Linked DNA regions of Homo sapiens: region 1 is linked to region 2. Evidence: fine-mapped expression QTL. A gene starts in region 2. The other region holds a variant in brackets. All regions are shown on one strand. Distances are between the middles of the regions. Region 1 has its middle 27 kb from the start of CDK14. Region 2 holds the start of CDK14 (cyclin dependent kinase 14).

What was found. PIP is the estimated chance that this variant, and not a neighbour inherited with it, causes the effect. A credible set is the group of variants that fine-mapping cannot tell apart.
Region 1: its variant is the best candidate, but not a certain one, in a credible set for the expression of CDK14 in whole blood (TOPMed, PIP 0.67).

Annotation. Positions count from the first base shown.
Region 1 is chr7:90,566,312-90,571,693 of GRCh38, forward strand. No RefSeq gene overlaps it. Among named protein-coding and RNA genes, the nearest start is that of CDK14, 27 kb to the right of the region's middle. The variant T/C (reference allele first, on the strand shown) is at 2,179.
Region 2 is chr7:90,592,893-90,598,274 of GRCh38, forward strand. CDK14 (cyclin dependent kinase 14) reads left to right here and starts at 3,429. Exons shown (of 15, transcript NM_001287135.2): 1 at 3,429-3,826. The coding sequence starts at 3,736. RefSeq lists silencers at 3,037-3,236, 3,257-3,566, 3,757-3,956, 4,017-4,066.

The sequences.
Region 1 (5,382 bases), 27 kb before region 2:
TGATCCTTCCGCCTCAGCCTTCCAAAGTGCTGGGATTACAGGCGTGAGCCACTGTGCCTGGCCGGATCTGCTGGTATCTTAATCTTGGACTTTCCAGCCTCCAGAACTGTGAGAAATAGATACCTGTAGTTTTAGCCACCCAGTCTACGGTGTTGTTATAGCAGCCCAAATAGAATAAGACATGTTCTTAGTTCAGATACCAGCAGCTTTCCCCATATTTATCAAATGCAAGCAGTGAGTTCACCAACACTAGGGCCTTGGGCAAAGTTTGAAGTCTTTCTTTAACACCTTTCCATTTCCCTGTACATATCTGTCATCCCCTTCTTTTGTCTCTGTCCACCATTTTCCCTCCTCTCATGGGCTGTGGCTCTGGTGTCTGGGGCTCCTAAGTCCTATCATGGAACTCCATCCAGGGCAGCCCTCCCGTTTAACTGACCTTTTCCTTCTTTTTTCCGAATCTAAACTGCCTCCACTGTGCCACAGCTATTATGAGATAAGCTCAGTCATATTTTATGTCTAAATAGAAACCTGTTGATTAGGCCAGAGCACAAAATCTGGCCAGGATTTCAGGGTGAATGAGAACAGTGACTTCTAAGGTAGCTTGCCTTTTGCCTGATTCCAACCCAGCAAGCAATGCAGGGAATAGACAAGACATCAAGAATGCAAAGGAGTGGCCATGACTATCCATTACCTTACCAGTTCCCTATGTAGTGAAATTCAATGGAACTTCCTAACTGCAGTGAAACAATGCTAGGTCAGAAGAGCCCGAAATGTGGTTCACTGCCTTTGGTATGCACGGTAGGGAAAGGGGGCACATCACAACCTGTTAGGGAATGCCTGCTTCTCCACAGTTACTTAATACTATGTTCTTATGTTCTTAGTTTTTGGGTCTACAGAGGAATTTACCATAAAGCTAATAACATTTAAGCTTCAGGACTCCTCATTTCCCCAGGCCTCTGTGAGTGGTGGGAGTTGCTTGGAGTTGTAAAGTATTCCACGTGAGGAGGGGAAGCCAGCATGCAATTAGAAAACAGAATTGTATAGGCATTTCTGTTAAATTTCCTAGAGACCTCAGAAGAAAGAGACTAACTGATTTCTTTTCTCAATCTGAATTAATAATCAGTTTCATGCCTAATTGATATTTGTGGTTTAATTAATTTATGTATTTATTTATTTTGAAGTGGCTCATAACTGCATATGCACCAGGCCCCACTCCTGAGGTCTACCTGCCCCTTATTATCCTAGCTGGATTACAAAAGAATAGAATTTGTTGGAAATTGATGTGGGGGCTAGCAGCTGGTGCTGCATATTCTGTTTGCCCCTCCAGACCTACTCTTCGCTCTTCTCTCCCTAGTCTGTCGCCCAGGTGGCTACTCTCTGTGGATGCTTCCCTGGCTCCCTTGCCATCAGGTTGTGGTCCATCAGTGAGATCTGTATTTTTAGTAGAGACAGGGTTTCACCATATTGGCCAGATCATCTGCAGGGGATGGGAGGACTGGAGGAGAGTGTTGATTTCTCTGACAATGGGTTGGCAGCAGGGTGGGCCTCATGGGTGTGCAAACTATGGAGTCAATAGAACCCCATTCTTAAGAAGGGCCCTGTGCTTGGTTTAATGCTTTTCTGTCACGGTCTTAAATTCTTCATTTTATATTTTTAAAAAAATTTCAACTGTTATTTTAGATTCAGGGGGTACAGGTACAGGTTCATTATAAGGGTATATTGTGTGATGCTGAGGTATGTCATTTTATCTTTGAATGTGTGTTTTGTAAGTGAAATCAAAGGGAAAGTGGAGCATATATGTGAACAGAGGGGTTACATGAAATATATGTGTCTGCAATTTCCAGTTGCTCCGTTTGAATATAGTATTTACGGTGTCCCCACGATCATAGAATGCCTATGTACCCATGCACTACATAAGGAATTCAGGGAGACTCAAAGCAAGTACAAGGTCCAGCTGATAAAGCCCCGAGATGTCATGCTTTCTATTTCAACCACAACTTGCTTAAAATTCAGAAAAAAGGCAATGAAATTTGAGAAACACATACAACCAAGGAGCCTCATCATATCGTTTCTTTCTCATGTTACTTCTCTGTTACTTCCTAACCACTTACACTAAAAATGATGTCATAGAAGGAAAGGGGAAGATAGGGCAAGCCATAGTTCCTTTTCCTTTCAGTC[T/C]TTCCTTCCTCATCCGTAAGCTGAAAGTAGAGTGTTGGAATACTGTATGAGTATAAGAAAGTGAAATGAAACAGTCGAGTTAGTTTTGTGCACTATTTCCACTGTTTCACTAGGAACAAAATATGTATATATGTACAAACTATGAAATGTAAGTGTATAATTTTCATGATTCTGCATGATAGTTAAATGCCCTTATAATGGCATTTAAAATTGGCATTGCACAAGATAAATGGTAGAATTCAGGCTAATAATTTAAAGTTTTAATGTTTTCTTTTTTCTTTTTTTTGTTTTATATTTTTTCACCAGCAGTTTCAATGTTCTCTTTATTTAGAATAGTGTTAGATACAAAATTTTAGAAACATGACAAGTTGAGGAAAGAAAAAGAGACGGCAGAAGGAAAGCAAAACTTTATACTTTAGTACCTTTACCACACTTTTTTCTTGCTTTTTTCAACTTGCACTGGGCTGCTCAAATTATATAGTGGGCTTTGGTTAATAGTGACTCTTTCTTCCACCGAAGTCCACAATTCCTGATGGGTGGCCATGTCCTGCAGCTACAGGTCTCCCTGGGCTCCAGGAGTTGCCCCCTTTTCCTTTGTTCTTCAAGCCTACTCCTGGTAGCACTCCGTACTGTGGGTAGCACTCCTGAGGGTAGGTGGGGTGTGCGGGGGCGTCACCAGAGAAGGGAAGTAGATTTCACCTTCCCTTGTTATTTTCCTTTAACCTCTGTCCACATCTGTGTAAGTTATTCTTTCATTAGTCTCTCTTTTACACTGCTCTGTTTGTTTGTGTATATTTTATTATGGACAATTTCAAACATAAATAGTTAATAGTATAACAGACGTCCACGTACCCAGTATCTAGCTTCAACAATAATTTTTTCACCCCTTTGGAGTGTGTCATTTGCTTCCTGCTGGGATCTTGGCTGATAGAAGGCCTGCTTATGCATTTTGACTATTCATCATACCCCTGTCCTCAACAGGGACCAGCAACTTGACAGCTTGTTTCTAAAAAGAAATTAATGAACATTGACCTACAGATTAAAATGGCGGAAGTAGCCTTAAACATATTCCCTGCCTGTTCAGTGAAGCTTGGTTCCCTAACTTCCTCCTGGGCATCCAAGCTCATCTGAAACTATGTTTTGTTTTGTATGCAAAGCTACAAAAAGAGGGCATGCTTTGTACCCTCTAAAGTAAGTGACTCACATTAATTAACAGCATTTATTCCCACCAATTGATAAATGCTTTATCTTTTCACTTGTAGGAGAAAAGGAAACATGTAGGAAGAATTATTTTCTTTGTGAGGAGGTCCTCTTTGTGAGAGGACTGATTACATGGTCATAGATCAGCAGCATATTTGTCTTCCTCAATTTCATGAACATAATTTTGTCATTAATGAGATTTGCTAGTAAAGCAGAAATGTCATGTCTACAAGGATAGATTCACTCTTAGTATGAGACCCTCGCCACTTGTCTCATCAAAAATAATCATTTCGGGTTTAGTTTTTTTACTAGTAGACATAATAAAAGTAATATATTACTATTCCATAAATAGGCATTTGGAATTAGTCTCTTTTTCATCATATCCCATCAAGGATACCATAGAATTGTCCAAATCAATAGGAAAATAGAGAAGGAAGGGGTTGGGGAAAAAACTAATCTTTATTTTTTTGAGATGGAGTCTTGCTTTGTCACCCAGGCTGGAGTGCAGCGGCCCGATCTCAGCTCACTGCAACCTCCACCTCCTGGGTTCAAGCAATTCTCCTGCCTCAGCCTTCCAAGTAGCTGGGATTACAGGCATGTGCCACCACGTCCGGCTAAATTTTTCTGTATTCTTAGTAGAGACAGGGTTTCACCATATTGGCCAGGCTGGTCTCGAACTTCTGACTTTGTGATCTGCCCACCTTGGCCTCCTAAAGTGCTGGGATTACAGGCATGAGCCACCTCACCTGGCCAGAACTAATATTTATTGAATGCCTTCTTTGTGTTATAAATATTTATTGTCAATTTAATCCTCACAGTAATCCTAGGAGGTAGATGTTATTATTCCTGCATTATAGAGGAGGAAGGTGAAGCTCAAGGAGGTTAAATTGCTCCAAAGTCTACAGCTACATGATAATTACAAAAGCCACTATTTATGTTTTGCAGAGCTTGACCCTATGCAAAGCACTTTAGATCCATTAGGAAATTTTACCCTCCGTTGTAAATCACATTATGTCCATAATACAGATTAGGTGAGTGAAGCATCTTGTCCAGGGGCACATAGATATTAACTGGCAGTGTCAGAATTCTGAGTCAATTTTGTCTGACTCAAATCCTTGCTATTCTCACTCCCCTCTGCTGGTTCCCAAGGGAGATGGGTACAATTTCTGTTACAATTTCTTTTTCCATCTTGAACTTCTCTTCCCTTTTGCCAATGTTCATTCAATCATTCTGATCTTTCTCTTTGATAAAGGGCACAAAATCAAATGTGAGTAGACAGCTCCTTTGTCACCATATTGCATTGCATAGTCAATCTCAACAGTGGGTCTGTTCTTTCTTTGATCGTTTTCTTGTCTAATGTTTAATTTTCTCTGTTCATTGTCTCCAGATATTTTCACACATGCAGTCCTAAAATATCTTAAAAAGTAATATATTTTAAAATTGATGCATAAAATTTATCATTTTAATTTTACATTAAAATTTTATAATATAAAATTTTTTATATACAACTCTTTTACCAAGAGTTGTATATACTTACATATATATAATTTCTGATATAACTAATGACATCTAAAAAATAAATATCACATTATTCGTTGATATCTATACGGTGAGATCTAAATAGTATAGCAATTTGATGCCTTATCCTACTTTCTAATTTATTTTTTATTGTATGTATTTATGGTATATAGCATGATGTTTGGACATACATATATCCAGTGAAATGATTACTACAGTCAAACAAATTAACATATCCATCACCTTCCATAGTTACCTTTTGTGTGTGTGTGTTTGTTTGTGTGTGTGTTGTGTGTGTGATATGAGCACCTAAAATCTACTCTTAACAAATTATCAATGTATAATATTAAGTATAGCCATCAGGCTGTCCATTATATACTTTTAAAATATACATCATAAAGTTCTTCTTTACCTGCAGGACATTTTCTTTTGTTTATTTACTCCTTGAAATTATATTTCCATTCCACTTCCTACTATTTTTTCTAC
Region 2 (5,382 bases):
TTTTATTTATCTATTAGAGATGGGTTCTTGCTGTGTTGCCCAGGCTGGTCTTAAACTCCTGGGCTCAAGAGATCCTCCCACCTAAGCCACCTGAGTAGCTGAGACTGTAGGTATGGGTAATTGCTTCTGGCTCACCATTAACTTTAGAATTAGAATTTTGCAGCTATGAATGGACCTAGAGGTTATCTAGTTCAAGCCCCTCATTTTATAGATAAGAAAATAGGTAAATCACTTACTTGTCTAAGGCTACAATGCACCTAGTGATAGACAGTAGGGACTAGAACTCATGAGTCCTGGGTCCCCAGCCACTTTTGTTACTACTGAACTCCAATACACTTGTATCCTTTAATTGGTGAATTTGGTTAAGGTCAACCCATGTTGGGTTCAGCCTCTAGATAAGCTTATCTCTTTGTACTTGAACACTGCACCTTTAATTCAGGCCATGCAAAACTATAACCTTGTAAACCAGAAGTTGAGATGGAGAACTGGCACAGATCCATTCTCCTACTGAAAAAACATGCTACACAGATGCTGGATAGTCATCTTTGTTTCCAAGGACAACACATCACTTCTCAGAGATAGCAATCCATTCTATATTTATTTGACAAACATTAATTTACATTCTCTATGCAACAGGCACTGTGTGTTTCATATCTTAGGGTCCCTGAACTTACACTGTTTAAGATGAAGGCAAATGTGAAACAAATAATAGTAGAAAGAGTTGAATAAGTATACATATCTTAAAAGCGTCAAGTTAAAAATGTCCTTCTTTGCATTGCAGTTTCTTGCAAAATTTGCTCTTTTAAAATATAACCAGGAAAGGGAGCAAGATGAGCATATAATGGAAAGTTGGTTACTCATAATTGCCAAGCTTTATTTGGCCCAGGCTTAACAGGTGTTTCTCCTGCCAGGTATACTGTTGTAACTAGAGGAAGTTGTTCTGGAGTTGGGAGAGCTGAAGTTTTGAAGTGGGGTAGGGAAAAGGAAAATATTCATTATGTTTATATTAGTATTTTTATTATTATAAAAGTAAAGCATTCTTAGAACATTCAAACTATACTTAAAGGTATAAATTGCAAAGGGAAAAGTTCTCTCTGTTCTGGATATACAATCAACAGTTTTCTGTTCTTTTTTCCAGAAATATTCTATGCATATAGGAACACATAGATGTGTATACATTTTTTCCACAAATGGTTTAAAATATTAAACATGCTTTTCTCCCAAATTAGCCTGTACATATTCACACATCAGTACACACTGATCTCATTTAAGAAAATTGGTGCATACCTTTGTATGCTTTTACCATAATTTAAGAAGAAGCTGACTACTTTTTTTAAGTCAGAAATACTGGGAAGGGGAAGAGCATGGTGGTGGTGCACGCCTGTAATCCCAGAACTTTGGGAGGTCAAGGCGGGCGGATTGCTTGAGCTCAAGAGTAGGAGACCAGCGTCGGTAACATGATGAAACCCCGTTTCTACAAAAATTAGCCAGGCGTGGTGGTGCGCACCCGTAGTCCCAGCTATTTAGGAGGCTGAGGTGGGAGGATGGCTTGAGCCCAGGAGAGAAGGTTGCAGTCAGCCGAGATGGCGCCACTGCACTCCAGCCTGGGCGACAGGCCCTGTCTCGGAAAAAAAAAAAAAAATACTGCGAAGGTAAAATAAACATATATTTAACATATTATATATTTGAAACAGCCATTGTCACAGTGGATAACAGTCACAGGTGTATAATAGTGAAAGTTCGTTAAATTAATATTTCTTCGTGTTTGTTGACTCGTACAACCCATTAGTGTTTTGATTGGTTGCATTTGTCTTTTCATTCATAACTGCTGAAAACTTTCTCCCTAACTAACCTGAGGAAGTGGTAAAAGTCAAACTTTTTTCCGGTATGAGGCCACCCTTGGTGCTGTCTGTAATTATCTAGACATGGCAGCCAGGATCCAACAGCTTTGCGTTTTAACTCATATGGTCTTTCCTGGCGAATTCCTTGCCCCCCTCTGCTCCCCACTTAGCTTGACTTCCTGTCTTTTATCATCCGCAATCTATCAAGATCCTACAATGTGCTCAGTGTAGGGCGGAACAAATCACTGTTTTACCTCACAATTTAAGGAAGGCAGGGGGCTAGTTTTTAAGATAAAAATCTTTTAACAAAACATAAACTCCCCAAAATTTCCTACAAGCCAAACAGCATTGTCACACCCTCACAAGCTCTTATTACTTACACAGCCAAATGACTCAAGATTACTAACGTTTCTATTCATAAGGAGTTTGCTGGCCTCAGATCAACACAATCAAGCCCTCCCCCACCTTCCTTCTCTCTCCCCTGGGAGACTGACGTTTGGAACTCACGCCGCACCAGGTTTTTTCAGAATGAAGACGATGTGTGTTCGCTGCTGGAACTGTTTGTCCTGGGATTTTATAAACACCTCCCCCACTCCTTTTTAAAGTTCTGTTTTTGAGGTGGGGGAAAAGGAGGTCGGAATCTGTTTAGCCTTTAAATCTCCCAATTCAGAAATATATTCTAAGAATTTAATAGAAAAAGACCAAGGGCTGTGTCTGCTATTTACTGCAGAACTGGGTATTCCTATCAGAAATCACCTACATGTGTCACCAAGATCAGAGACAAGGATGAGGGAAACAGCATGATCCCTGCCTTCTGGAGGGTTACAGTTGAAGCTTCCGCTGCTTCTGCACTTGACCTCAAAACAAACAAAAAACCCACCGCAAACAACAACAAAAAAATCCAGGCCCACCTTTCCCCTTGGATCTTTCACTTGACAGCTTTCTCGGCCCAAAATAAGGCACCCTACATCTGAATGCATCCCTAAGGCCTTACCGCACCCAGTCCAGGAGGCAGTCCTGGCAGCTGCCCTCCACCGAACTCCGCGCTTTTTCACACACGCTCGTGGAAGGAGAAAACCGCTCAAACAACTGGACTCGGCCCGTTTCCTTTCGGTAACCTCCCCACAGCCCAACACGCTGTCCCCAGACGCTGCCCGCTCCCACCCCGGTCCCTTCGTGATCCTCCCGCGCGCGGGCGGGGCGGGGGAGGAGCGCGGGGGCGGCCGGGAGGGGCGCGGCCGGGAGGGGGCGCCGCCGGGGCGCGAGCCAGACACAGAGGGCCGCGGAGGACGCGGGAGGCGAGCGGGGAGCCGAGGTCGTGCTAGGATCCCGCGCCCAGGGGCCTTCGTCGAGGGAGGGGCGTGGCGGCGGCAGCAGGAGGGCAGCAGGAGCTGTCAGGCTGGCGGTTCCGCGCCGCGGCTCCTTCTGCGCTGCGCCCGCAACTCTGGGCTGAGAACTTCTCCCGCCGGCCCACTCGCCCTCGCCCCGCGCACTCGGCGCCAGGCGACTCCCGCACCTTGTACCCGGCCCGCCCCGCCTCCTCCTTCGGCCGCACCACTCCCCCTGCCGGCCGCGCTTCTCTCCGTTACAAAGGAGGGAAAATGAGCCGGGCGGCGGCGGCGCGGCGCGGGGCCACCACGGCGGCGGCGAGCGCGGCCGCCCCCGGCACCACGTAAACCGCCCCCGCCCGCCCAGCTGCGGCCCAGGCCGGAGCGGAGCCTGCCGTCCTCCGCCTGCCTGCTGCTCGCCTCCCTAGACCTGCGCGTCGCTTCCCGGCCCGCCGAGGAGGTGGTGGAGGAGGAGGCGCCGCTTTCCCCGCGGCGCGCGCCCTCGCCGTTGTCTGAGCTGTGCCTGGACCAGTTTGGGGAAGTTGTCGGGGCTCCGCGTCGCCCAGATGTGTGACCTCATTGAGCCGCAGCCGGCCGAGAAGATCGGCAAGATGAAGAAGTTGCGGAGAACTTTGTCGGAGAGTTTCAGTCGCATTGGTGAGTAGCGCGCTGCCCCCGGCCCCCCCAGCGCCCGCTCCCCTCGGCCTGCGCCCCCGCCGCGTTCCTGGCACCAGCCATGCAGCTGCCAGCGGGGCTGGCGTGGGGTGCGTTGTAGGCGGGGATCGAGGGCACAGTGCTAGGGACCCGGGGGAGGGCAAGGACGTAAAGGAAAGAGACCCCTCTTCCTCAGGATCTGGGGGTTCATTTGTAGATTCTCTCAAGCCTACAATATGGGTTCTCCCCTCCTCCGCCACTAGTGCTCGCCCTTTCGCGCGCGTGGGGGACGGGCGAGGGGACCCCTCGGCCCCCACCGCGCAAGGGGCTGCGCGGCTGCTTGGGCCACTTGTTATTTTTTGCGCACAGGCTTGGATATTGGGCGTTTAGTCAGTAATTTAGCTTTGGAAATTGGTGAAACGTTAGACTGTGCCCTGGTATTGTTTAACGTATCCAACCTAAAGGGAAGTGGGACAGTTACCTTGGGACCTATTGTTCGGTACTTCGGGTCCTGGAAAGCGAGATTTGGGTGTTCAGTCTCGAGGTCTCTGAATCTTCCCGCTGCTGGAGAGAAATGCGCGCTGTGGAGTTGTCTGGACATTTAGGAATGTCTCTCGAACTTGTTCCATTTAATAGAGCTCAGGGGCTGTTGTCTTTAAACCAAACAACAAACCAACTGACCAACAGTGTTTAGGACAGTGACGAATAAATGCATGTCACAGGTTGTAATAGGGTGACAGCAGTATCACGTGGAATGGGTTTGTTAGATTTTGAGTACTGGGCATAGAAAACCCCTTTTAACCTGAAGAGTTAGCTGCCTCCCCTACTGTCACAACTTTCACTAATAACATGTAACTGCCCTGAGCAAGAGAATGCTATAGACACAAAAGATAACCCCTGCGAGTCCCTAGGAAGCTGCCTAGTCTTTGTTTCACTTGTTTTAAATGTCATCCATGTTAACGAAAGTGTTAATGGAAATTAAACATAAAGGTACTTAATTCCTTAAAATAAAACCCTGGGATGCACATGAGTGTTACAGATATCCTTCCACCCATTCATTGTAAGATATGCAAACTTTCTTCAAGTGAGAGAGTACAATGGATCGAAATTTAGCCAAGTTTTTTTTTTTTTTTTTGTCTTTCGACTTAAAATTTTGTGTTGGTATGCAAAATCTTTCCCCAGATGACTGTAAAGTTATGGTATGAAACCAATCTTTAGTTTTATTTATTGCATGTATTGGATATTAATTTCACTCTTCAGAATTAGGGATACATGTGGAGAGTCCCTGCATTAAGATGAAGTTTGAAGCCAAGAAGAGTGTGAGAGAGGGAAATGTTGAGTCGTGTGCATTATTAACGAGGATGTTTCAACCCTGACCCAAACCGTCGCAGAGGCGGGTTCTGGAGTCCATTAAGCCGTGTTCTAAAACACATTAACTATATATTTACTAATGCTAATGATTCTGCTGGAGCCCCTCCAGTTTTGTGTTAAATAATTCATTGCAATTGAGTCTCAGTAAGAAACCAAGGACATTAATCTAAAAGTTCCTTATATTTAAA